Linked DNA regions of Homo sapiens: regions 1 and 2 are each linked to region 3. Evidence: fine-mapped expression QTL. A gene starts in region 3. Each other region holds a variant in brackets. All regions are shown on one strand. Distances are from middle to middle.

The links. PIP is the estimated chance that this variant, and not a neighbour inherited with it, causes the effect.
Region 1: its variant is fine-mapped to the expression of LINC01310 in tibial nerve (GTEx, PIP above 0.99). The same link has a PIP of 0.9 or more in cerebellar hemisphere.
Region 2: its variant is fine-mapped to the expression of LINC01310 in amygdala (GTEx, PIP above 0.99). The same link has a PIP of 0.9 or more in cerebral cortex and prefrontal cortex.

The regions. Positions count from the first base shown.
Region 1 is chr22:48,890,532-48,898,708 of GRCh38, reverse strand. It overlaps LINC01310 (long intergenic non-protein coding RNA 1310), which reads right to left. Exons shown (of 7, transcript NR_038944.1): 4 at 5,577-6,043; 5 at 4,094-4,305; 6 at 2,566-3,974; 7 at 323-1,911. Among named protein-coding and RNA genes, the nearest start is that of LINC01310, 28 kb to the right of the region's middle. The variant G/A (reference allele first, on the strand shown) is at 3,888.
Region 2 is chr22:48,834,250-48,842,426 of GRCh38, reverse strand. No RefSeq gene overlaps it. Among named protein-coding and RNA genes, the nearest start is that of LINC01310, 28 kb to the left of the region's middle. RefSeq lists an enhancer at 4,831-5,358. The variant C/T (reference allele first, on the strand shown) is at 3,550.
Region 3 is chr22:48,863,210-48,871,386 of GRCh38, reverse strand. It overlaps LINC01310 (long intergenic non-protein coding RNA 1310), which reads right to left and starts at 4,617. Exons shown (of 7, transcript NR_038944.1): 1 at 4,540-4,617. RefSeq lists enhancers at 1,595-2,094, 2,095-2,596.

The DNA of each region.
Region 1 (8,177 bases), 27 kb before region 3:
TGAGAGCTTGGCCATTCACACATGGCGCCTGGCCCCTGGAGGTGCAGGCGTTGACGATGTCTGGGTCCTGTCTGGGCCACCTGGTGCTGCTCTGAGAGCCAAGACCCCTTCCACTGTGGGGCCCTTTGCTGTCCTCCAACGGGAGCCCCTCAGAAGGAACAGGCTTCATCGCGAGGGGAGACGGTGCACTGTGGAAGGCTAACTGATTCTAATGCTTTTCAGAACATGAAGGATTAAAATTCTAACACTGCCTGTAAAAAACCACGCGCCTCCAGTAGAAAATAACATCTCACAATTTCCATCTCAGGCCGAGGATGGTGCATTATAGGAAATGATACAAATTGAATTAATTTTCATTCTCATTACAGGGATGGGGTTACAAGCTGCCGTTCTTCTGGACACGGGGTCCTTGGGAGTCAAAGCGGCCCCAGCACAGAACTGTTTTCTCCCAGGACCCTGACGTCCATCTTGCAGGAGATCTGGGGGTGGGGGGCACCCAGGGAGGGGCAGAGCGGGTGGCAGGAACAAACCCACAGGGGGTCAAGGGGAGCGCCTGGCCTGGGACCCTGTTACCTGCAGACTGCTGGTAGAACTGGCTTCCCTGCGGGCCCAGCACAGGAGGGTGTAGGGATGGCCCTGGACCATCCGTCTGCAGACACAGACATGCAAGATGGACCTGCTGTTTCACTCCACTGACTGGAAGAGAAGATGAAGCACCAGCCCCAACCCAGCCATCACAAAAGTACCCCCAAGAGCTTGAAGGTTTGAACTGTGCTTGGGCAGGGGTGGAGGCCTCTGGGGCCTTGGAAGTTTGAATATCCCTTCTGTCACCTCTGGAGGCCCACATGTCACCAGGCCAGCCTAGACTCCACCATCAGCCGGTGGGGGGAGTGGACCACTTGCAGGGGATGGCCCAGCCCAGACTGGCTTCTGTTCCCCGTGGGCCCAGCAGGGCATCGGCTGTCCCCTGTTATCAGAGGAGGGTCAAAGCCAGGCAGGGCCCTCATGTCCCGGGGCGGCGTCTTCTGTCTGTGGAGCCTCCAAGGTCAGGAGGCTGGAGCCATCCTCTCCTCACCCAAAGTGGCCAGGACCCCAGGCAGCCCTGTGGGGCAGAAGCCGGGCAGGGCAGGTAATGGAGGGCCACGGCTGAGCCGGGAAAGCATCCTGAAGCCTTGCCTCAGACCCGGGAGCCCTGCTCCGGAGAAGGAGTCAGTGAGACTTGTTATACACGGTGACAGAGGCTGTTCAGGTCCTTCCTGATGGTACAGGGACCTGGTGATTTTCACCTTCTGCCTTTCGTGCTGGGGAAGAGGCTACAGGTTTGCTCTGGCCGAGGTGCGTCCACAGGCCTGAGAGTGCAACCACTGGAAGGCAGTGGAAGGCGCGGAGTGTGAAGGAACAGGCATCTGCAGGGGACTCTGGCTTCACCTGTGGGACTAATTTTTTTTAAATGCTGTTTATTGTTTGATTTGAAGCCAGCGCTGGTGGACGTGGGGTGCCAGCTCCTGAACACCTTCCAGCGGAGAGCGTCAGACCCAGATGGCGGCGGAGGAAGCTTTGGGGTTGACAAGCCCCTGCATGAAGTCGAAGGACTGTCCCCCCTCTCCCCGGGACAGCAGCCAAAGTGGCGTCTCCTCTTCTCCCGGGAGCCGCCGTGGGAGGCCGGCGCTGTCCTGGATGCAGCAGGCGGGGTGCAGGGGTCGTGCCGCTGCTGCCAGGACCTTTTGTGGCAGCATCGATTGCTCAGAGAGCGACCACACTTGGCTGCGGCCCAGGCAGCGTCTTAGGAAGGCATGTTCATTACATCAGATGGCCTCCTGCTCTGGGGAACCTTCCTCCTCCCCATCAGCCTCCACATCTTTTTGAAGCCAGTGGGAAAGGCTGAGGCTCCCTGGCTGACTCACACACTGGCTACAACGGAAATGAAATGAGAGGTTGCCCTGTGTGAGAACACCAGGATGCCGGCCTCACCCTTCGCCCCTCAGAGTTCCCACCACGCTCACCCCCTGCAATTTCAGTTCCTGGCTCCCATTCTCCCATAACGCTTCCCATAACGGATTATTTCAGTGTCTGCTCAAGCGTCCCCTCCAATCCCCTGCCCCGCACATCCTTTACCTGCTTTTCTCCAGTGCTTATATCTGCCACTGTCTCCAATAATGGTGTCCCATTCCCCCTCGCTCTGCCCCGACCCCCTCTGCTCCTGCCATGTCCCCCCTTGCCCTCCACCCCATCACCTCCCACCCCTGCCCTGTCCCCACATGCCCTCCACCCCCTGCCCACTGCCTCATGCCCTCTGCTCTCCACCCCATCCCCCCCGCCCTCGACCCCATCCCCCCTCTGTCCTCGACCCATCACCCCCTGCCCTCCGCCCCATCCCCACTCTGCCCTCCACCCCATTGCCCACTGCCCTTCACCCCATCACCCCTCTCTGCCCTTCACCCCATCGCCCCTTTCTGCCCTTCACTCACCCCTGCCCTCCACCATCCTCCCTCCTCCCTCACCCTCACCGTTTTCACTGACTTTGGATCCCACAGTTCCTCCTGAGCCTCACTCCCACACACTCACCCTCAAACACCCGGGTGCTGGAACCGGGCCTGTGTGTCTGGCAGAGGCTGAAGGAGCAACACACATCCCCAGTGGAACTGACAGCGTAGCGGAACTTCAGCCCCAGCTGGATTCCTCGTCCATGGTTGGCATCAATGGCATGGGCTGGAATTCACCTGGGTTGATTCTGGCCCATGTGGCGCAGGTGCACCTGTGCTCTTCTGCAGGCCTAAGGCCTCAGTGTATTCCCTGCCCACGGGCTTCATTCACTTGTCAGCATAGATGCAGCTTCGCAAACTGATCCCAAAGCTAATTTCTAGAAATATCGATTCTTTCAGCGACCTCTCCACTACAGCCTAAGGTATCTCACAGGGAGGGAAGTCTGTCTAGAAGTTTCGTCTTGTGGGAGGTTCCTGAAATACTGTGGACCCCTGTCCTGGCCGTGTGTCCACATTGCCCGTGATAACCAACACTCTTATCCCCTTCCCGCCTCCAGCACGCCCACACCACCTGTCCCTCTCTCCTCTCCCAGGTCTGAGAAGTGTCTAGAAGCCAGGCCGTGTGCCTGCCACATCCTGACCTGTGTCCCATCTGCCTGTCGTGGGCCTGTCCGGGGTGCAGTCAGGAAGGGTCTCCTGAGCCCTCCTGGATGTCCAGGCTCCTCAGCGGTGTTTCCCACATCCACACTTTGAGGGGTGTGACTGGGCAGGACAAACCCCTGTGCTTTGAAACCAAGCAACCCAGGTTCAAACCCAACTGAAGGGCTGTGGGGTCAGGTGCCTTTCTGAGCCTGTTATCTGTAAGGGTCGGGGTGGTGGGAGTATCCCTCCTGCCTCCTACACAGAAGTGGCCAGGGCAGCTGAGATGGGAGATGTGCTGTTCCGAGTGAGGCTCTGAGAAGGAGCTGGGTGAGGAGTGACGCAGTGAATGTATGGCTGATGTCACCTTGCTGCATCTGCACACACGGCCTGGGGTCCACACCACCGCCCCCGTGGCCAGGAGTCTGAAGCCTGAGGGTGCACATGGCAGCTGCCCAGGTGGAAGGCGCCGGGGCCTGTGAGTGGGACCCCCCCAATCCTGACTGCTTCCTGGGGTCCAGAGCACAGAGAGTAGGGTCTGGTGCAGCTCACAGGGTGGGTGGGTGTCCAGCAGCCAGCTCGCCTGGTCCCCACACTTACCCAGCCTTCATGTCCATGTCCCCATGTGGCCACCTCCCAATGCCCAGCGTCTGGGGCCACCTGAAAGGGAGTGAGGAACGCATCCAGGCGGGATCGCCCTCCCTGGGATCTTCTTGGAGGGAGGAAGGAGTGTGGCCGTGTTACCGGAAGGGGACTCAGCCTGGG[G/A]AGCCGGTGGCTCCATCCCTCGATCTGTGGCATTGATTTCTGTCACAGGAATGCCGTGCCTACTGCTGTGGTCCCAGGGGAGTCTCTCTGTCAGCAAATGCAACACAAACAGGATTTGTTAACAAGCTGCTATTATACCTGGAGATTGCGGCTCCAATGGGGTTTAGAATGAGGAAGAAAAGCCTGGGTGCTTGTCCGGGTGCTACCTTTGTCCCTGGCAGCTTGTCACACGGAGCACAGGGAGCTGGTGTGCTGCTGATTTCAGACAGGGGGCGCCACGCCCAGAATGGCCGCCCACAGGAAGGGCACCCTACGGGGCTCAACACAGAGCGGGGACTCCACGTGGCTTCCTCAATGCTCCTGCAGTCCACGGTTCCTCATTTTGATGGAGGAGAGGATGAGGCCCAGAGAAACAGGACTTCAGCAGTTCAGATGCGAGGCGGCCAGAGGCCACATGGAAAGGAACAGGGAGGATGTGAGAGATTGTCCCCGGAGGGAGGCAGGAGGCATCGTCCTGCAAACGTCCTGCAGTCAGGGCCTGAGGCCGGACGCTGCCCAGGCAGAGGGGCCTCTGGGAGCAGCGGTTCAGCCCCTCACTGAACAGACAGGGCTGAGGCTCAGAGATGGTGTGAGGGAGACACTGCCCAGGGAAGAAGCGGAGGCCAGGCCGGTGGTGACCGTTCCTGAGGATGGGCTCTGCCCTCGTAGGGAGGCCACCGAGCACCTGTAATGACTACAGCCCTACATCGGCCCCTGCAGGGTCCCAGCCCTGGCCTGCCCCGGGCTCAGCTCCCTGTGCCTTGGGTCTGGGCTGCCCCATCGCAGCTCCTGCTTGCCAGGGTCTGTTACAGTAGAAGCTTCTTACACTCAGAAGAGAGTGCAGCCATGGTGAAGGCCTGAAGGGTGCAGGCTATCACCCTTCCTTGCTGCTTGGAAGAGCAGGGGCTTCCTCTGCCTCCCCATACCCTCTAGAGAAAGCACTGCTCATGTCGCCAGCAGGAGTGGACCTCACTCCTGGGACACATGGGCTGGCCCAGCGGGGGTGGACCTCACTCCTGGGACACATGGGCTGGCCCAGCGGGGGTGGACCTCACTCCTGGGACACATGGGCTGGCCCAGCGGGAGTGGACCTCACTCCTGGGACACATGGGCTGGCCCAGGAGACCCCTCTATCTGCCACCCTGCCGACACCACCCAGCACAGTAGAGCAATGGGGGCCTCCAGCAGAGGAAGGACGCAGCTTGCCCGAGATGCATCTCTTACTACAGAGGGGTGTTCTCCCTCTCGCCCTCCCTCGCTCCCTCCTGTTTCCTCTCCTCTGCCTTCTTGCTCTCCCTTCTCTTCCTCCCCATGACAGAAGAACATGTCCACACCCAGGTCTCTGTCCACACCCGGGTCTCTCTGTCCACACCCGGGTCTCTCTGTCCACACCTGGGTCTCTCTGCAGTGCTCTGTCCACACCCGGGTCTCTCCGTCCACACCCAGGTCTCTCTGCCGTGCTCCTTCCTGGATTTTGCTGGGAGTTCTTCACTCCCTCCTATGATACCTGATCCTGTGTACATGCTCAGTGCCCTCGTCCTGTGTGTGGTCAGCACCCTCACCCTGTGTGTGGTCAGTTTCCTCGTCCCTGTTTGTGGTCAGTGCCCTCATCCCTCTGGTCAGCACCCTCGTCCCATGTGTGGTCAGTACCTGGCACTGTTTTCTCCCTGGATTCCAGGTCGTTGGTCTCACTTGGCCTTGAGCATTGCTGTCTGGATGGGTCTCTCCTGAGCACCCTGCCCTCGGGCTCCAGTTTCCCGCTTCTCCAAAGTCCTGACTTCCCCATCGTGAGCACCGGTTCTGGGTGCTGCCCACAGGAGTAGGTGCTGTCTGGGTGGGCAGTGCCCATTGATGTGGGGACTGAGTGCAGGTCTTGTGGAAAGATCAGCAGGGGACACCCTTGCCTGCTGTCTCCTCCCAGCTGGGCCCCTGGGGTTGGGGAAACGGAGACACCATCCCCCCAGAAGTCTGTTTGGCTCCAGAATATGAGGCCATGCCACGCAGGGCATCTTTAGAACACCAGCTACTGTAGTGCACAGGGATCACAATGCCTGCCTCCCGCTCTCTGCTGGGGAGGGAGTCCGATTCTATCCAAAACAAAGCATGCCATTGAACAGCTGGGAAAAAAGGGAACAGGAATTATCCAACACCATCTAGCAAAATGAGTTCCGAGTGACCCCTGCTTGCCCGTGCTGTGGTCAGAACACTCGCAACCAGCGTCTGTGTGGTTGGAGGTTTGCTGCAGACCTCCACCCCCAGCATGTAGCTCTCCTGGGATACAGTGAGGGGAACCACACACTTTGAAACCTGCAGACTTTATCCGTGACAAGTGTGACATGGACGACCAGAAAGTGACCAAGCTGCTCCTGGCTCCAGTTCCTCCCAGCAGGTTACCTGCTGTGCTGAAGGAAGCAGTGCCCATGTTGAGAAAAACACAGACCAGTGAACTCTGGAAACACCTCTTTCCAGTAAATTCCACCAAGTCTTCAGCCTCACCTCCTGCCTTCTGGGTCAGGATGGCAGTTCTCGACCAGACCTCATGCCAGCTGGCCTCAGACCCACCAGGAGGAGAAGCCCAGGCTTGGCTGCCAGCTCTCTGCCAACCTCCAGTCACTCACTTCCTCTTAAACTCTGAGATACCCTCGAGTGCAACTGAGCACATGGCTCTGCCCAGATAGAGGCAAGCTTTTCTGGACTTTCTTGCAGCGTGGTGTGGCTGTGTGATTAGGTCTGTCCCATGGGACCTAGGCACAAGGAATGGGCCCCATTTCTGGGAAATGTTCTTCAAAGTAACGGGCATGCACTCTCTTTGGCCCATTCTTCCTTCCAGCTAGCTGGGATGCAGATGTGATGGCAGGAGCTAGAGCAGCTATCCTGAGCTCAGAGTTTGAAGCCATTTAATGAGGTAGCAGAGTCACCCTGCCAGCCAAGCACTCCCTGCCTTTGGACTGATAAACGGAGGCTTTGTTACCCTGTGTTAAATGGTGCCCTACATCATAAGAGCAGTGACTGATCAGAGACAAGCTGGGAACTGCCCCAGGCTTCCACTCTGACCTTTTACAATAAGTATGATGTGGACAGCACCCAGAGGTGGAAATGCAAAACCACTTGTCCCACTGCTCTTCTTCCTCAGAGATCCCAAGAAATGGGACTGGCACCACCAACACTCCAGCCCCAAGGGCAGCCACATGCCTCTCTGGCACAGGTTCCTCTGGGTGGTGATGGGGGAACCCACCCTCTTCCGTTTGCAGCTCCCCCATCTCAGCCCTTAACTTCCAGCCCAGCTCGGGAATGGAAGAAGGAGGGAGTGAGGCACCGGGTCACAGTGATCTTGGGCCCCACACTGCTTCGCTCACCTTTCACTCAGGAAAATCAGCCATGTGCCCCTCCCTGGAAACTGGGGATGGTGGGGAAAACATGGATATTTGGGGAGCTTTGTAGGGCCTCATGATTCTACTGGGAGAAAGTGACCTACTCTACTTCAATATAAAACCATTAATGTGTCTCCTAAGATGCTGCTTGGTCTAGAAAACCAGAAAAGAAAACTGAAGGAGGACAGTTAATTTACACCAAAGTGAGAGACGATTTGCTGATAGGAAAACTAGGCAAGAAGACACAGCATTTAGATACAAGCAAGTTTCCACAGAGGCTCATAGACATCTCCATCAGAGAGGGGCTGATGATACCCACGCTGGGGGCCGTGGAAATAGGGTGACATCACAGAGGAGCGGAGCGGTGGGCAGGGTGGCACGCTTGGCTGTGGACATTTTTTAAAATCCCCAACTTTGAACAAAAAGTGAAAAAGTCTACGTTTGTTATTAGGTTAGTGGTTGTTCCTAGTACCCAGTGGGTAAATGTTGGACACACATGTAAAATGCTCATTGAGACCCCCACACGGTCAGCAGCCCCTTGTTCCTCCATCTGGTTCTGCCCTGGTAAAGAACTTGAATGTGAATGTGACTGGCCCACAGCCTGTACCCCTCTCCTGTCCGCCAGTGACCCACCATCCCATCAGGAGGCCAAGACACCCCCCACGTGAGAGACAACAGAGGCTGGGAATGCTGCCCCACCTCCATCTTCCCTCCCCTGCCTGCCTCCTCCACAGCTGCTGCCCCAGGCTGGAGCCCCAAGGCCTCCTCCTCCTCTTCTGCCTCCTTCTCATGCTCTGCCTGCCGTGGCCACCTCGCAGCCCCTGGCCTCGTGTGGAGCCCCTGCTTGTCCATCCTGCTGACTGCAGGTAAGGAGAGAGCC
Region 2 (8,177 bases), 29 kb after region 3:
TTGGAAGCCACCCCCATGCCCGCAGGTGACAGCAGAGGGCGCAGCCCGCACCAGGGCATTTTCCTCAAGACCCTCCTGTGCAAAGACAAGACAGGGAAAGGCAAGAAAACACGGGTTTGGAGATTATCTACTTCTATTTAAGAAAAAAAAAACGTATTTTAGCATAATCCTCTGGTAAGCACTAAACAGGCACCATTAGCGGAAGCTTGGGTTCTGTTCAGAGGAGTGGATGGAGCTGGAACCAGGAGCGAGGTCTGTGGAATGAAAGGTGCCATCCTGCAGCGTGGAGCACCCCATGCCAGCCCCCGCAGGGCAGCTCTGATGCAGGTACAAGTTAGGGGAGGTGCTCCAGCAACACAGCCCCTTCTGTGTGTGGTGGCGGGAGTGAGAATGTGATGTGGGGTCTCACGTGGAGACGGGCGCAGGAACAGCATGGAGAGAGAGAGATGGAAAAGCCACACCCTATCCCCCACCTGGGACTGAATCCCTCTTGTCTGCCAGGCAAGTGACTTGAACCATCCTTTGAGGGAGCTTTGAGGAATAAGACAAACCCTCACTGTGGAAGGCCAGAGGATCCCCTTTCCTCCCTGGAACCATCCCCCAGCTCCATCTGCAGATCCTCCCCTAGCACAGCCCAAGAAGCTGAAGACCAGAGCCCCCAGGATACAGCGGGAGGGATAGAGGCCACTCAGGGGGTCCTGGGACTTGGAACAGCCTGGCTGGAATTCGAGCATTGCTAAGAAGGAAGTTGAGGGGCCCTGGTGTTCCTGGAGTGTGGGTTTGTGGTCCTTCAACGCATCCCTCATATTTAAAAATACCCCTTCCTCTCCCACTCCTGTCCAAGCAACTCTAGATCCTGCTGGCCAGCCGCTTCCTCAGATGAGTTCACTGAAAGCAGGAGTCGTCCTCCCATCCATGCACCCCTGAAGCCCAAGGAGTTCCCGTGACTTTAGCCAGAGACTTGGGCAGCCAAGTCTCTGATATGGTTGGTTTCCTATCTCACCCAAATCTCATATTGAACTGCAATCCCCGTAATCTCCACGTGTCAAGGGAGAGACCAGGTGGAGGGAACTGAATCCTAGGGACGGTTTCCCCCATGCTGTTCTCATGATAGTGAGTGAGTTCTCATGAGATCTGATGGTTTCGTAAGGGGCTCTTCCCCCTTCACTTAGCACTTCTCCTTCCTGCATCCTTGTGAAGAAGGTGCTTGCTTCCCCCTCGCCTTCCACCATGATTGGAAGTTTCCTGAGGCCTCCCCAGCCTTGCTGAACTGTGGGTTCATTAAACCTCTTTCCTTTATAAATTATTCAGTCTTGGGCGGTTCTTTATAGCAGTATGAAAGGGACTAATACAAGTGCCAAAGGGAGGCGAGGCTCATGGGTCTAGGAGACCACGGGGAGGCCAGGGCAGGAGGGATCTGTCCCATCCATCTCCACTCACAGGCCCTGCAGCTCTGCAGGGAGCACTGGGCTCCGGGAGGAGCACATGGAGATTCAGTCTTGGGGGCCGGAGGACAAATGTGTCACTCCCCTAGACCTGGCTTTGTCCCCTTGCCACTCACTCACTCACTGACTCACTCACTCACCCACACGGCTGCATTTCTTCATTCACTCAACACAGTCCAGCCTGGGGGAGCCAGGCCCCATTTCCCTGCTCAGAGCCTGCTCTGTTTCTTCCAGGGAGATGGGCCGATTCCGCGGGTCCCTGACTGCCCGGTCAGCACCTAGGCCCGGTCCCTGGCTGAAGCCCAGAGGCCAAGGTTATTTCACAGGGAAACCCCTTCTAGATGGTGAAGGGGAAAAAGAGGAAATGCTACCCAGTGGGGTGTAGAGGGAGGAGGGCGCCAAGGTAGATGAGGAGTGGAGGCCAGACTCTCTCTTCTCCCAGCTCTTGGGCCCCATGTGGGGGTATGGGCTCTGGGAAGACCCCTGAGAGGGTATGAGAAGCTCCACGTCTCAGGTCCTGGGATGCCCCTGGCTGCCATGTCTCAGGGGCGTCCTGCGTCCTCTGTGCATGGGTGGGAGGGGCAGCTCTGCTTCAGCGGAGAAGTTTCTAGATGTAGATGTGGGAGGGGTACTGCCAATGCTTTCTGCCCAGGCATGGCCAGGATGCCCAGACACCCTCTAGTACATGGGAGGGGCCGTGGGGAACCCTGTGGGAAACCTAACCAGGGGCCATGGGGAACCCTTGGAGAACCTGGGATTGGGGGTGGGCACTCAGGGCAGCAGCATGGGTGGGGGCAGGTTAGTGACGGTCCCCAGATGCGAGCACTGCCAAACAGCCAAAAGGAGGGGTCCTGCCTGCCGAGGCCCATCTGCTGGAGCTGATCCAAGGCCAAGGCTGGTGATGGCTGAGGCCCTGAGACCCTAAGACCCCAGCATCTGCACAGGGCAGTCATCGTGGGTTATCCCCAGGCACCTGGCCTCCACCATGTGAGGAGCAGGGAATTAGGGAAAAAAAACTAAAAGTCCAGGAATTTATGCAAAAGAAGTTGCATCGCCCAAGAGAGATAGCTTGGAAGGAAGTACTGCAATACCAGCAATGAATGACTAAAATCGCCCCCCGCTATGTGGAAGGTGGGAGCCCTCAGAGAGATTATGCTGGTGACAGAGAACAACGAAGCTCCCCCAGTGCCTAAGGCCACCCTTGACCTGTTCTTCACGTGTCCAGCCTACTCTCCCAGCTCTGCTCAGATCTTCCAGCACAAAGCCCTGGACAAGGTAGCTCCCATGTGCCCCCACGGAGTGGACAGCTGCCCCTCACAGCTCTGGCTCTGAGCACCCCCTTCAGAAATGGCAGGGCTGAGCTTAGTGGCTGAGCTTGGTGGCTGAGCTTGGTGGCCGAGGGCGGGGACTGGCAGGGGGAGAGATGGACAGACAGTGTTGAGTGGGACCTCACATCTTGGATGCGGACCAGTGCTATGGCCCAAGTCCTTGCAACCTGTCCGAGAAGAGAAGCCAGGGAGGTAGGCAGCCCCTTCCATCCATCCACTCATTCACTGAATGCACATGTGCCCAGCGCCTGCTCTGTGCCCTCCACAGTTAGGGTGAAGGGAGTACACGGTACAGGGAGCCAAGCCCTGCCCTCAGGGAGCTCATTCTCAGGGGCAGCTGGCAGCTGAGGCCAGCGGAGGGCCCGGGAGGGGCCAACACTGTGGGGAAGGGGCCTGGCAGGGACAAGCACAGGGCCTGCTTGCCACAGATGCTGCTGGGGGTCATGCAGGTGCGTGAGGGGAAGTACCAGGAGGAACACACCTCCACCAGAGCCTGACCATGGGGTAACTCCTTTGTTTCTCTCCTGTCTCCTCATCTCTAGTGTAAACCCAGCAAGACCTGCCTCTCAGGCTGCCCAGAGACCAGGAGTGCACCTGCTGTGCTAGGAGATGACACAAGGTGACTGTGAGGCTGCCACTCTCGTGGTGTTTGCTGTCTTAGGTGACGGAGGCTGCATATGCTCCACCCTGGGGACGCAGGAGCCTGCAAGAGCCCCGTGCCTGTGCTGCAGGCATCCTGGGACGGCGCTGCATCAGGGACGTTTTGCGCCTCCTTC[C/T]GGCCCCCTCTTTCCCTTTTCTCATTCCCACCTCCTTCTCCCAGCTCAGAGGTGTGTGAGTCTCAGCCACTCCCCAAAGCAAAACCCTCATAGTTAGCCAGGGACCCAGGCAGGGGTCTGGCAAGGCCCCCTCCCACCTCTCAGACTCTTCTGTCTCCAGAGGCAGAACGTGCACGTGGGCATCACATTGACTTTGGGGACTTGCCTTCACCCCAGGGCGCTCCAGTCTGGTGGATGCTGACTCTGACCACACCTGGGAACCAGTCTACACCTGGGTCTCAGCTCGTAGTGACAGTCCCTGCCAGCCCCGAGATTTCCAGGGGCAGCACCGCCCCTGAGGTACATGGACCCCACCGCCGTCCACACAGCGCACACCCACACGTGTATCCGAATCTGCGAGCAGCATATGTGCTGTGGGTACAGGTGCTGCAACCTTAGCTGACGGATTATGAAACTGAGCCTGCAGATCTGAGCCCGTTGTCCGAGATCCGTGCTCTCATTTCCTAATCCACTTCCAAAAGCCATTTTCCCATACTAAGGGCAAGACTTTCAGCCAGACACTAGGAGGATTTGAAGAGAAAGAAGCTACAGTCTTTGTCTTTTAAAGGAATCCAATCTTGAAGCCCGAATGAGGCATACGCAGAGGAACGCAGGCTACGAGACAAAATGCGATAATGCACAACCACCAGCTAGAAGACACAATGGAAGCCAAGGCCCCGTTTACGACAGCAACAAAAGAGATAAAATACCTATGAATAAATTTAACAAGAAATGGGCGAGACCTGTGTGAGGACAACTTCACAACATTCATGAAAAAAACAAAAATGGAAATTCACATGGTCAGGAAAAGTTAGTATGACAGTGATGTCTATTCTTCCAAGTTAATTTGCAAATTGAATGCAATCGCCATCAAAATACTAATGTGTTGCTTTCTCTGGGATTAGTCAAGGGATTTTAACTTCAAATGGAAAAATGATTCAAAAATAGGAGAAATGAGGGGAAGGAGGGAGTGGCTAGCTCTAGCAGATATTAGTAATCCATGACTAATCAGCTGTGATCCTGGAGTACAGTCATGGCAGACAGGACGGAGGCACAGGTAGGAAGTCCAGAAACAGCTGAGTCAGGTAAGTCCTTGCTGGGAGTGTGGCCAGGACGCGGTGGGACAGGATGGCCAAGAAAAGGCACAGCCCTGGGGACAGCCCCACCTCGTAGCCTGTGTGTGCGCACGTGTGTGCATGGGAGGACACGTGTGCATGTGTGTGAGGACACGTGGGAGTGTGCATGTGTGTGCATGAGGACGTGTGTGCATGTGTGTGGACACGTGTGTGCATGTGTGTGAGGACACATGTGAGTGTCTGAGGACACGTGTGTGCATGTGTCTGAGGACACTTCTGTATGTGTAGGCATGTATGTGAGGACACATGTGAGTAAGGACACGTGAGTGAGTGTGTGAGAGGACACGTGTGTGAATGTGTGAGGACACGTGTGTGTGCATGTGTGAGGACACGTGTGTACTTGTGTGAGGACACGTGTGTGCATGCATGTGCGTGTGTGTAAGGACGTGTGAGTGCATTTGTGAGAGGACACGTGTGTGCATGTGTGAGAGGACATGTGTGTGCGTGCAGGTGCGTGTAAGGACACATGTGAGTGTGTGTGTGAGAGGACACGTGTGTGCATGTGTGTGAGGACATATATGTACATGTGTGCTATGACGTGTGTGCATGTGGATGCGTGTGAGGACACTTGTGAGTGTGCATGTGTGTCCACATGTGTGGGGACATGTGCATGCCAGTGTGTGCCTGTGTGCACATGCATGTACATATGTGCACGCACACGTGTGTCCCAGGCTGCCCCAAGGCTCAGACAAGCTTCCCCCACAGGAGCTGCCATTTTCCTCCAGAAACAGGATTTCCTCCCAAAACCCCAGGAATTACCGACCCCCAACCCAGCAGGAGACTCCGACAAAACGGCGCCTTCCCCCGCCCTTCCCACCTGCCGCCCCAGACCTCAAAGCAGAGGCACCTCCCACCCCCACACTCTGCACTCCCGGCTGCAGTGGTCCTAGGGCGGCCCTGTGAGTTCAGTCATGGAGACCTGAAGAAGAAACGGGAGGTGACCTTAACATGGTCCCAGTGTCATCTTTTATGGCAGCCCCATCACCCCTCCTTTCACTCCAGCAATGAAGCTGGCAGGTGCCTGGGCATCTGGAACAGGGCTCTGAGTCATTCATTGAAAGAGCAATAGAGCAGATTGCTCGGGGGAGATTGCTCAGGGGTGCTTGGCACTGGTGTCATCACCCTGTGTTGATGGGGGACCCCAGGGCAGCACCCCACGATCTGGGACCAGGCTAGGGCTCTGGTTTGAGACTAGACAGGCAGGGGGAGCTGGGCCTCGATGACAAACGTGGAGAGCACGGCCACGGGTCTGGGTGAGTGCTCAGTGCCCGCAGGCAGGGTGGGTGTGCAGGCTTCTGCCCCAGTCACAGAGGGGAGCACATTACCTGCCCTGCAGCCTCTGCTCTCCCACCTGAGGTTTGGAGCCCACTCCCAGGAGCGCGCACCTGCGCGTGGCTCCACAGACCTGATGGCTGTGGCGACGACCGTGAATGCCACTGTGCACTCCAAGACAGAAAGCAGAATCAGGCGTCAGCTTCAGACCGTCACGGGCACCGAGAACGCGGCTGACGCTGGATGGGATCGGGCTTCATAAGCAGGGCCCCCCACTCTTGCCCCACAGGTCCCCCCACGCTGGCAGGCAGCAGCGGCTGCAGGGAGCGATCAGGACAACAGGCAGGCTGGAGGAGCCTGGAATCCCCGTTGGGATGCCTCGGCGTGGCACCTGCAGCCTGCTCCAACCTTGAGAACACGCTGTGCTGGGCAGAGGATGGGCTGGCAAGAGGCCGACTGTCTCCTAGGGGCTTTGACCAATGCAAGTAGGAGAACTAAGCCAGAGCCCGCCCAGCGAGTCCTGGAAGGAGCCGGATGGGTGGTGGTGCTGGCCTGGCCCTGACCTGGGGGCTGACCATGAGCAAGTCAATTAACAGTCAGGCAAACCTCCATCTAGTGGGCAGGGTCCCGCACAGCTCCCAGAGCTCACAGGGGCGACACCGGGGGTCTCACCATCCACGAGGAGACAGATTACAGGTGCTGCAGGCAAACCTAAAATAAATCATGTTAAAGTGCAGCGTTTAGCAGCTCTCGGCACATGACCTTGGCGTCTATCTCTGTTTCTGAAACATTTCCATCCAGCGCCAACACCCCATGCATAGGCAGCCGCCGATCTGTGCCTACCTGTGGATCGATCTGTTCTGGATCTTTCGTATGAATGGGGCAACACAGCTTGCTACCTTTGGTACTGGCCTCTTCCCCTCCGCACCGTGTCTTGAGGTTCAACCACATCACAGCTGGGTCAGGCTTCATTCCTCTTTGTGGCTGCATAATTCTCCACCACATGGCTCTCCTGCAAATGCACCATCTCTCTCCATTCTAATTTTTAATTTTTAATTTTTTCTTTCAGATGTAGTCTCGCTCTGTCGCCCAGGCTGGAGTGCAGTGGCGCGATCTTGGCTCACTGCAACATCCACCTCCCGGGTTCAAGCGATTGTCCTGCCTCGGCCTCCTGAGTAGCTGGGACTATAGGCACCCTCCACCATGCCTGGCTAATTTTTATATTTTTTTAGTAAAGACAGTGTTTCACCATGTTGACCAGGTTGGCCTTGAACTCCTGACCTCAGGTGATGCACCTGCCACGGCCTCCCAGAGTGCTGGGATTACAGGCATGAGCCACTGCACCTAGCCTCGCTCCCCATTCTAAATGTGACTTTTCTGTCACCATTACCACGTTGAAGAAATTATCCCTTTTTTTAATTGACAATCTTGTGTCCATTATTGCAGAAATGACCCTCAATGACTACAGTGGATTTATGTTATCGAGAGCCCCTTCATATATTTAAAGGATGGTCAAGTGTTTGAAATGTTGTTTGCTTGCAAGTTTTTACTATTTCAAATAAGGCAGAGATGGACATATTTATAGCTAATTCTTTGCATATATCTTTATATATTTTTTAGGACAAAATCCTAGAAATGAAATTTCTAGGTCACGTCACACCCATTTAAAGGCTTCTTATAGAGCTTGAGAAACTGCCCTCCTTAAAGGTAGAGGAAGCAGTTGATGCCTCCTCCGTGGAGCTGTGTGTGAGTTTCCTCTCCGGGCAGTGTTTACCGCTGTGCAGATATGGCCTTTGGGGAGGACGGACATAGCTTTGCAGATGTTCTGATATATTTGCCATGGAATCTAAATATACAGCCATCAATACCAGGTGTCATCTATGTTTTAAAGAACTGAGTAAGTTCCTGTTTTATGGTTGAAACTGAAACTAAAGCCCTTTTTATTACCTTACACTCATATTTCTATGCCAGTCCTCCACAAAATTGTACCCTAATAGATTTTATGTTTCAAAGTTGTTATTGATAGTCCTATTATAATCCCTATAACAATATTCAGAAATATACATATATGTCTATAAATTGATTTTGTTAATTTCCAGGTGCCATTGATCTTTAAATACTAAAACCAATTCTTCTAGTTTGGGTTATTATTACAATTATTATTAGCAACACTAGATTAAA
Region 3 (8,177 bases):
GATGTGCTGCCAGGGAGAAGCTCGCACGCTGCTCAGAATAGGACACCCCCAGATGGATCTCAGGTCCCTAGAGAGACAGCTGGGGGCTGCAGACTGGCTCGGCCCCGGGAGGGCACCAGCTCGCCCCCTCACACTAAGAACCCAGGGTGAGACTGCATCTTTAAAAATAAAAGCCACATCTTGACAAAACAACACCAGTGCATGGACCCTTGAGAGCCGTTTAATCCACACCAGCAGGAAGCCCCCGGCACAGGGTGTGTGCTCCCGCTGCTGCTGGAGGAAGATCATGCAGACACACGGGCGATGTGGAGGTGCCACGGCCCCCTGATTCCGGGGGCACGCCATTATGATGGAAATTTTGGCTGAAATGATGGTAATAGGTGACCCCTCTACAATATTAGAGACAGTTAAACCATCTGTTTTTCCATCTCAAGTACACATTCGATTTTATATGCATACCTGCATGGAAAAATGACTTCCAACAAAAGAGCGTTTTCATTATGTCAACTGGCTTCTGGGCGCACATTTTGGACGGTCATTCAAAACACATTGGCAAATTTCCCCTGAAGGAAAATGTGCCGCTTGGTGGCTCCAGCTGCTCAGGCGAGGAGGAGCCGACCTTCAGGGCCTGCCTCAGGTGCCTCAGCCTAGAGTCCCAGCCCCTGGCACAGCCCTTGGCCCTGACGTTTCTCCCCCGGCCCCCACAGGGGGGCCCAGGGTGTGTTCGGTTCTCTTTTGCATCCTCAGCAACAGCCAGGTGTGCCTTCACAGCGCAGCCTTGATTTCCATGACAAGTTAAACCGTCTGCCCCTCCGTAGAGCTTCAGGCCCATGAGATGAGCAGGGCGTAGGGCAAAAGAGCATTTGACAGCATGAGAGTCTGGCAAACGCTGTGTTTTAGAGGGATCAAGAATGATGGCGAAATCAGGCAGGAGACGTAGTTCATGTTCCCTGGGAGCTTAGCAGAGGAGGACAGGCACCCACCCCAGGGGCACACAGACCACACCAAGGCTGCCTGGGGGAAGCAGGATGGAGCGCACTGCGGAATCTACCCGGGAGGATGATGGGAGAGCTGAGGGTGGGGACTGAGCAGATGCTTGTAAGGTGGAGAAAAAATAAAAGAGAGAAGTCTCCCTGGCAGGAGGCAGGGGGAGGACCAAAGCAAGATGGTGCAGTGCCTTTTCAAGGAGTAACAGGCAAGAAATAGTAAAAGAGGAGAATGAAAAGTTAGGAAAGAAAAAAAAAGAAGGAACAATGGCCTAACCAATGTGAAAGATCACTTCTCTCTCCTGCACAAATCGGGGGGTGGACAGGGCAGAGAGAAGGGGAATGGAATCCTCCAGGGCTCAGGCCCCTTCTCTTACTATGCTTGGATCCTTACTGAATTTGCCTCAGGGTCCAAGATGGCTGCGTGTGCACCAACCATCACGTGTGCTATCCTGGAAGAAGGGGCCCTCCCAGAATACCGCAATACTTCTGCTGACCTCGCCTTGGCCAGAACCTAGTGGTCTGGACTGATCTGACTGCAGAATAGGCCTGGAGATGGCCTCTTCTAGATGAGTGTGTGGCCATCCTGAGTAAGATCATGGCTCTCTAAAAAGGAAGGAAAAAATGATGCTGGAGCAGCTACTGTCAGGAGGCCAAATTATCATGGCCACCAAAGGCCCAGCTTAGAAGACAAGCCAGTTTCAAGTTTATTAGGAGCAGGCAGCACAGGCTTTTGAGCATGAAGGTAAAGTGGTCAGGTCTGACTGTCAGCCTGGAGCCCTGGGGGCCAGGGTGGAAGGTGGACACAGGGCAGTCAAGCCAGGTATTTGCGCACAGATATACTGAGTGCTATCGGGCCCAAATGCTGTGCCAGTCCAAATAATTAGACAAAAGAATGTCTTGGCAAAGCCCGTTCCCTTCCCCGCTCCCTCCTAACCTGGGAAATAATGTCCCAACCCACCGGTTTTCCAGGACAACCAGCTCCCCAACCGTATCCAAGCCACCTCCCAATTCTGACAGCTCCCTCCCCAGGGCCCCGCAGGTGTGACAGCCTCCCTTTGGCCCCACAGTCTCGTCTGGTCCTGATCACCTGGGCACTGCCATGGGCCCTTTGTGGGCCCGTGCATTGCATGCCTACAGGCCTGTACCCATCCCACAGCCAGGACGCCGGGCAGCTCCACGACCCAGAGTCCCTTTGTAACGTCAGCTGCACTGGAGGTAGATTGCCAGGTAAATTTCAGTACCTAAGTCCCATATGAATTTCAGGTCAACAACAAATAAATTTTGTTATAAGTTTAGCCCCAATATTGCCTAGGACATGCTTAGACTAAAAATAAGTGCCTTGTTTATCTATAATTCAAATGTAACTAATCCTCCTGTATTTTGACTTGCTGAACCCAGCAAACTGAATTTGAAGGGTGTTTCCTGAAACTATTTGAGTGCTCCTCAGCCACATTCGGTTTGGAACAAGGAGCCAAGGTCCAATTTCCAGGCAAAACCAAATGGTGCCCTTGCTCCCACCCAGGGACGGTGCCAGGAATATGCCAGCCATCCCTGGACCCGAGAGTCACCAGGCACGGGCCCTGCTTAGGGGTTGATCATCTCTGAAACCTTCCAGGAAGGACCACTTTGGAGATGTCATCTGACCTCCTTTCCTGGGAAGCTGCGGGCCTGAAGCCATCTTCCAGGATTTCTCTCTGTAGCTGTAGAGCTAACTAACACCAGGCCTCCGGGCCAGGAACTGGCAGAGGATTCTGAGGGCATTTTAGCCTCAGGCAAAGCCTCCCTGACCCCCCATCTGCAGGACTTGCAAATGGACACTGCTTCCAGCCCTCCTGATGAGGACACGATTATTCTTCTCCACTGGTGCCAAAGCAAAATAAAATTCCATTTGCTTTTCTGACACATTAAACAAGAACATTAGGAGTTCTGCAGGGGTGACCATATTTTAATATGCTTGGAAACCGTGGCAGGGGAGGTTCATTCCCTTGCCTGTTTGTACAGGAGAAACAGTGAAAGAAATCTGAGTCAACCAGGCTGCAGGGAGTAGAAGGCTGAGACTTTTTCTTTTTTTTTTTTTTAATACAAGGTGGTGCGTAAAAGTAATAAAGAGGTCACAGGGAAAATCTGTATCATGATGAATCCAGTTATTGCAAAAGAGCTGTTTCCTTCAATGTTCGAAAGCTGATAATACACGTGCACAGGCGTCTGCTTCTAATTTCAGGGAAGCTAAGCCCAGGAGCGACCGCTTTGGAGGCCATCTGCATGGAGCTGGCTGTCACCCCTGGTGCACGCGAGTGGTGGGGTCTGTACCCCGGAGGCCCTGCCCCACCAGGCAGGACGAAGGACAAAGCACTCCTTCCCTTCTCCAGCACACTCTGTCCTTTGCACCCCCTCAGGGTCGCACAGGTCATTCCTGCTTCCTGGAAAGACTCATCCCTTCAAACTGCTTTTTAAGCTCCTACTCAACCCTCAAGACCCATCTCACAGAGACCTTTAATTACCTAGGGTTGAGCTAGTCCTGCCTTCCCCTGCAGACGGCCCCATTATGTTCCAGGCAGCTTCATTCACAATTGTCTCCTCTTTGAATGTGGCTTCCCCAGGAGCAGGGACCAGTTTAATTTGAGTCCTGTCCCCCATGTGTACCGTACAGTAGGCAGAATGTGGTGCTGAAGTAATTAATGTCTCTAAATATTGAATCCTTCCCACAACCCCAGAGGAGATCCAATTCTGATGTCAGTGGAATAAAATGCAGTTCAAGTTCAACTTGAATTGATTCAGATGGTTTTCAGCACAGCCACCCACCGTTCCCAGGCCCCGGCCCCTTGGCTGGCCTCTTCCGCTCCAAACCGGTGGCTTCTTCCTCGGGGAAGGTGCTTCAGGCAGCAGGGGTGCCAGGACAGAGGCCTGGAAGATTCTGTACTACGCAGCATGGGGGCCACATTCTGTTGCTGGAAGGGAGTCACAGGCTTGTCCAGCTCAAGCGCAGGGTCAGTGAGAGTCTATCCTCACACTGTCAGAGCCAGCTGGGCAGCATGCCGGGGCAGCTGTCCTCCAGACGGGGACTCAGAAGCTTTGTGCTTTAACTTCATGACACCGGCATCCAAGCTCACAGCTCTGGGCCCCACAGTGGGCAGGGAATGGACCGCAGGGTTGAGCCTTTGATCACAGTGCTCGTGCTTCCCCCTGTGCCGTTGCAGGCCTCAGTTTCCCCAGCTCTTTTGCCTGCACACCTGGGTCCCACATCCCCAGCCTGAGACAGGATCTCCTTGTCACCGTGGCTCTGCCACGTCTGGAGGTTTCCTGACCGCGCTCAGGCACCTCTCTTGGAACCTGTTTCCGCATCAGCAAGGACAGGCGAGGCCAGGGAGGAGGAAGAAGCTAACTCTCGTTAAAAGAAAAACTTTACACAAATTAAATCTAACAGAGTTTAACTGAGCAAAGAATGGTTCGGGAATCAGTCAGCCTCCCGAACCAGAAGAGATTCAGGGAGATTCCGGCACTGCCGTGGGACCAAAGAAGATTTATGAACAGAAAAAGTAGGGTGACTTACGGAAGACAGAGCGCAGTCCAGAAGCAGCCACTTGGCTCCAGCTTAGGGTCTGTCTTACTTGATCAGGGAAAACTCGATGACTGGCACAAGAGTAGGTTACAGACTATTTACACGTCCAGTTTGGTACAGTTCACTGTGTACAGAAAGACTTTTTTTTTTTTTTTCAGAAAGAGTCTCGCTCTGTCACCCAGGCTGGAGTGCAGTGGCGTGATCTTGGCTCACTGCAAGCTCCGCCTCCTGGGTTCATGCCATTTAGGCTGAACTTATGTGAGGAGGCAGCTTTAGGCTAAGCTTATCACTCTGAATTCTCAGTGGCATGTCGGAGTTTGCAAGAAAGGTGGATTTCCCATTCATGCCAACTCCTCCAGCATGGCTACAGATCGCGGCTCATCAACAACTCACACGTTCCTCCCAGGTGTTAGGGCAGGACTCAGAACTGGAGGTCCGTGCACTGGCTCGTCTATGCTCCAGCCTAGAAATGTCCCCGAGGCATGGCCAGAGTCCTCCAGGCTGGGGAGCAGCGGAGGCCAGGCCATGCCAGATCTGTCGTCTGGGTTTAGCTTCGTTGCAGTGAGTGTTTACAGCTGAGTGGTGCTCTGGTGACCGTTGCTCTACAATGATCCCTCTGGCAGCTCCACGGAAAACAGCAATAGTTGTCCAATTCAGGAGTGAGTTTCCACATCCATCCCTGCTAAGGGAGTGCACAGTGATGGTGACTGAGAAGCTCCTCAGAGCACCAGTTCTGAAGTCACACACGTTGGGTTTGGGACTGGGATCCAACAACTCCTTGTTGTGGGACAGTGTGCAGTCCTTGTCTGGTGACCCCACTTCCCGGTCTGCAAAATGGGATCCTGAGACCTGCCCCTCTTAGGGCTGGGAGGACCCGACCAGCAAAGCCCACACGGCCTCAGGGCCAGGCAGGTCCCAGAGTAAAGGACGTGCCAGCGTAATTGTTGCCCTGGGTGTTGTTAGTGATATCACTGAGAGCTGATATTTTCCTTTCTCCACTGCCACCTCCACGAAGACAGCACACATTTGCTTAAGAAATAGCAGCTAGAGCTTGGGCTGAACTGTGAAACATAGCAAGTGTGCTATATCAATCAGAGAACACTTTTCCCTGGCACCAGTGATTTCTCGGAGAACTGTGAGCCCAGGCATCAGCTGTGATTCCATGAGTGATGGAGGGCCAAGAAGCAGAATGACACCAAGGGACCTTTTGTAAACACCCGCAGGAGCTCTCTGCATCCACGACAGGAAAATAAAGACACAAACTCTTCTCTGAAATTAGGGAAAAGGAAATAGAGAAAGTAGATGAATGCTTTAAGGAAATTTTTGAAGATAGAAAACTAAAAAACTATTAATTTAAAAATAAATGAAGTACACAAGCTCTAAATAATGGCATCTTTCCCCCAAACTGTCATAGAAGAAAAGCTAATGTGTTATTTTAAAGGATGACTCTCAGATGACCCTTTAAATTCCATTTATATTCTAGTGATTAAACAAAGCGATTTATTAGAGTTTTACAGAGGCATTTTCTCCCTGTGTCTTACAACGCAGACCACATCAAAAGCACCCATTTACTGCCATTATTTCAATACTGATTTTATTTTATGATCTTGATTTGTGATTTATAACTTTGTTTTTCTTGAGATTCCCGTCTTCATGTTGTTGGACCTGTGTGTAAAGCAGGAAGCAGCTCCCTCCCTTGGATGTACTAAAATAGTTACTGCTTCACATGCGTGATGCTCCTGGCTACCTTCCTGCCCCTGATACAAGCCATGCCGAGGTGGGGAGGGGTCCAGCCCACGCAAGCAGGGAGGGAAGCCTGTGGTCTCCCCATTGGCAGAGGAAAGGGGTGCGGACGCAGGCACCTGTCCCAAGAGGGAAGAAGGCAGATTCAGGATGGAATTAGCAAGACATGCTCCCCGACTGATTGTTACTTTCAAGAAAGCAGCCGGCCGCACTGCCAGCTTTGATAATTGACTTTATTCTACCATTGATGGATAAATTGACTGATAGATGTCAGACAGAGGCATGACCGAGGTGGGACCAGGTTTGTGCAGAAAGAATGATCGGCTCTACTGATTCAGTAAAATTCATAGTTTCAATAAGCCACAAACACACACCCCCCAAGCACTAAACACACAGGCACACACACGCATGCACACGTACATGGGTACACACACACACACACACACACACACACACACACACGATACTTTCAGGAAGAGCTGAGTTCATGATTCCAAAGCTGGAGGAGTGTCTCAGATGTTTCCTTCTGAGACCTTGGATGACTGGCGTGGGTGCCGGGGCATGGGGGCAGCTGCTGGCCCATCAGAGACAGGCCTGCCCATCAGGAACTTATATAGAAACCACAATGTGGCCAGGCTGGATGTGCTGTCTTTGCCTTAATCCCCAGCTTCATGTGCCCCAGATTCTACTGTGACCAGGACTGGCCTCTCATACAGCACTCAACCGAGCCCAGTGTCCCCAGCTGCGTCCAGGGTCGCCAAAGTCCCTGCTCTCCTCTGTGCAGGGAAACACTCAGGCCCCGCAGGTGCCAATCTCTTCAGGAATAGTCAGGAATAGCACAGGCATCTGCTCTGGAGCCTCAGCCTTGAGTGGTCCATGGAGAGGAGGCGGTGCTGGCCTGCACACCATTCCCTCCTGGAAGCCGATTGCTGGGAGGCTCCACCTCAGCCTGCTATCCAGATCCATGCTCCACCCAGCAGTCCCCATGTGCCTTAGAACAAGGTCAAGAGAGGTATTCATGCCCAGGCCATGGTGAAAACCCGTCTGCTTGTTCTCTTTAGTAATTTCAATTATTTTATTTTTTTGTGAAAATTACACATGTGCATTAGGAAATTTTTTTTTAGTACAGAAAGCAACATTATCACCCCAATCTCATCCCCCAACAGGAACTTGCCTTCATACAAGGAAACAACCCCAGACGGCCTCCACCAGCCAGGTGGGAGGTCAGTGGGAGGAACAGCAGGGAGGGTGGGAAGTCCTTCTACTCATGCTTTTAATTAGATGATTTATTTTAAATTATATTTAATATGAAAAATAAAGTAAAACAAAGGGAATGGTCGATCTTCATTTCTTTACCATGGAAATGTTCATTTCTAAAGATCTTTTTAAGAGAAAAAAATAGAAACATTGAGAGTTTGATAATGAGGGTGTATGAGTGAGTGTGAGTGTGCCTGTGTTCTTATTTTGTTTTATTTTATTTTATTTTTATTTTTATTTTTATTTTTGTTTTATTTTGAGACAGTCTCACTCTGTTGCCCAGGCTGGAGTGCAGTGGCACAATCTCGGCTCACTGCAACCTTTGCCTCCCAGGTTCAAGCGATTCTGCTGCCTCAGCCTCCCAAGTAGCTGGGATTACAGGTGCACACCACCACACCTGCCTAATTTTTGTATTTTTAGTAGAGACGGGTTTCACCATGTTGGCCAGGCTGGTCTCGAACTCCTGACCTCACATGATCTACCCACCTCGGCCTCCCAATGTGCTCGTATTCCAGGCATGAGCCACCATGCCTGGCCATGTGTTCACATTTTATTTGCTGTCTATTCACTGAATTTGCTGTGAATGAGGAAGAAACCAGCCGGTTTTCCCTTCCTCTCACACGTCAGTG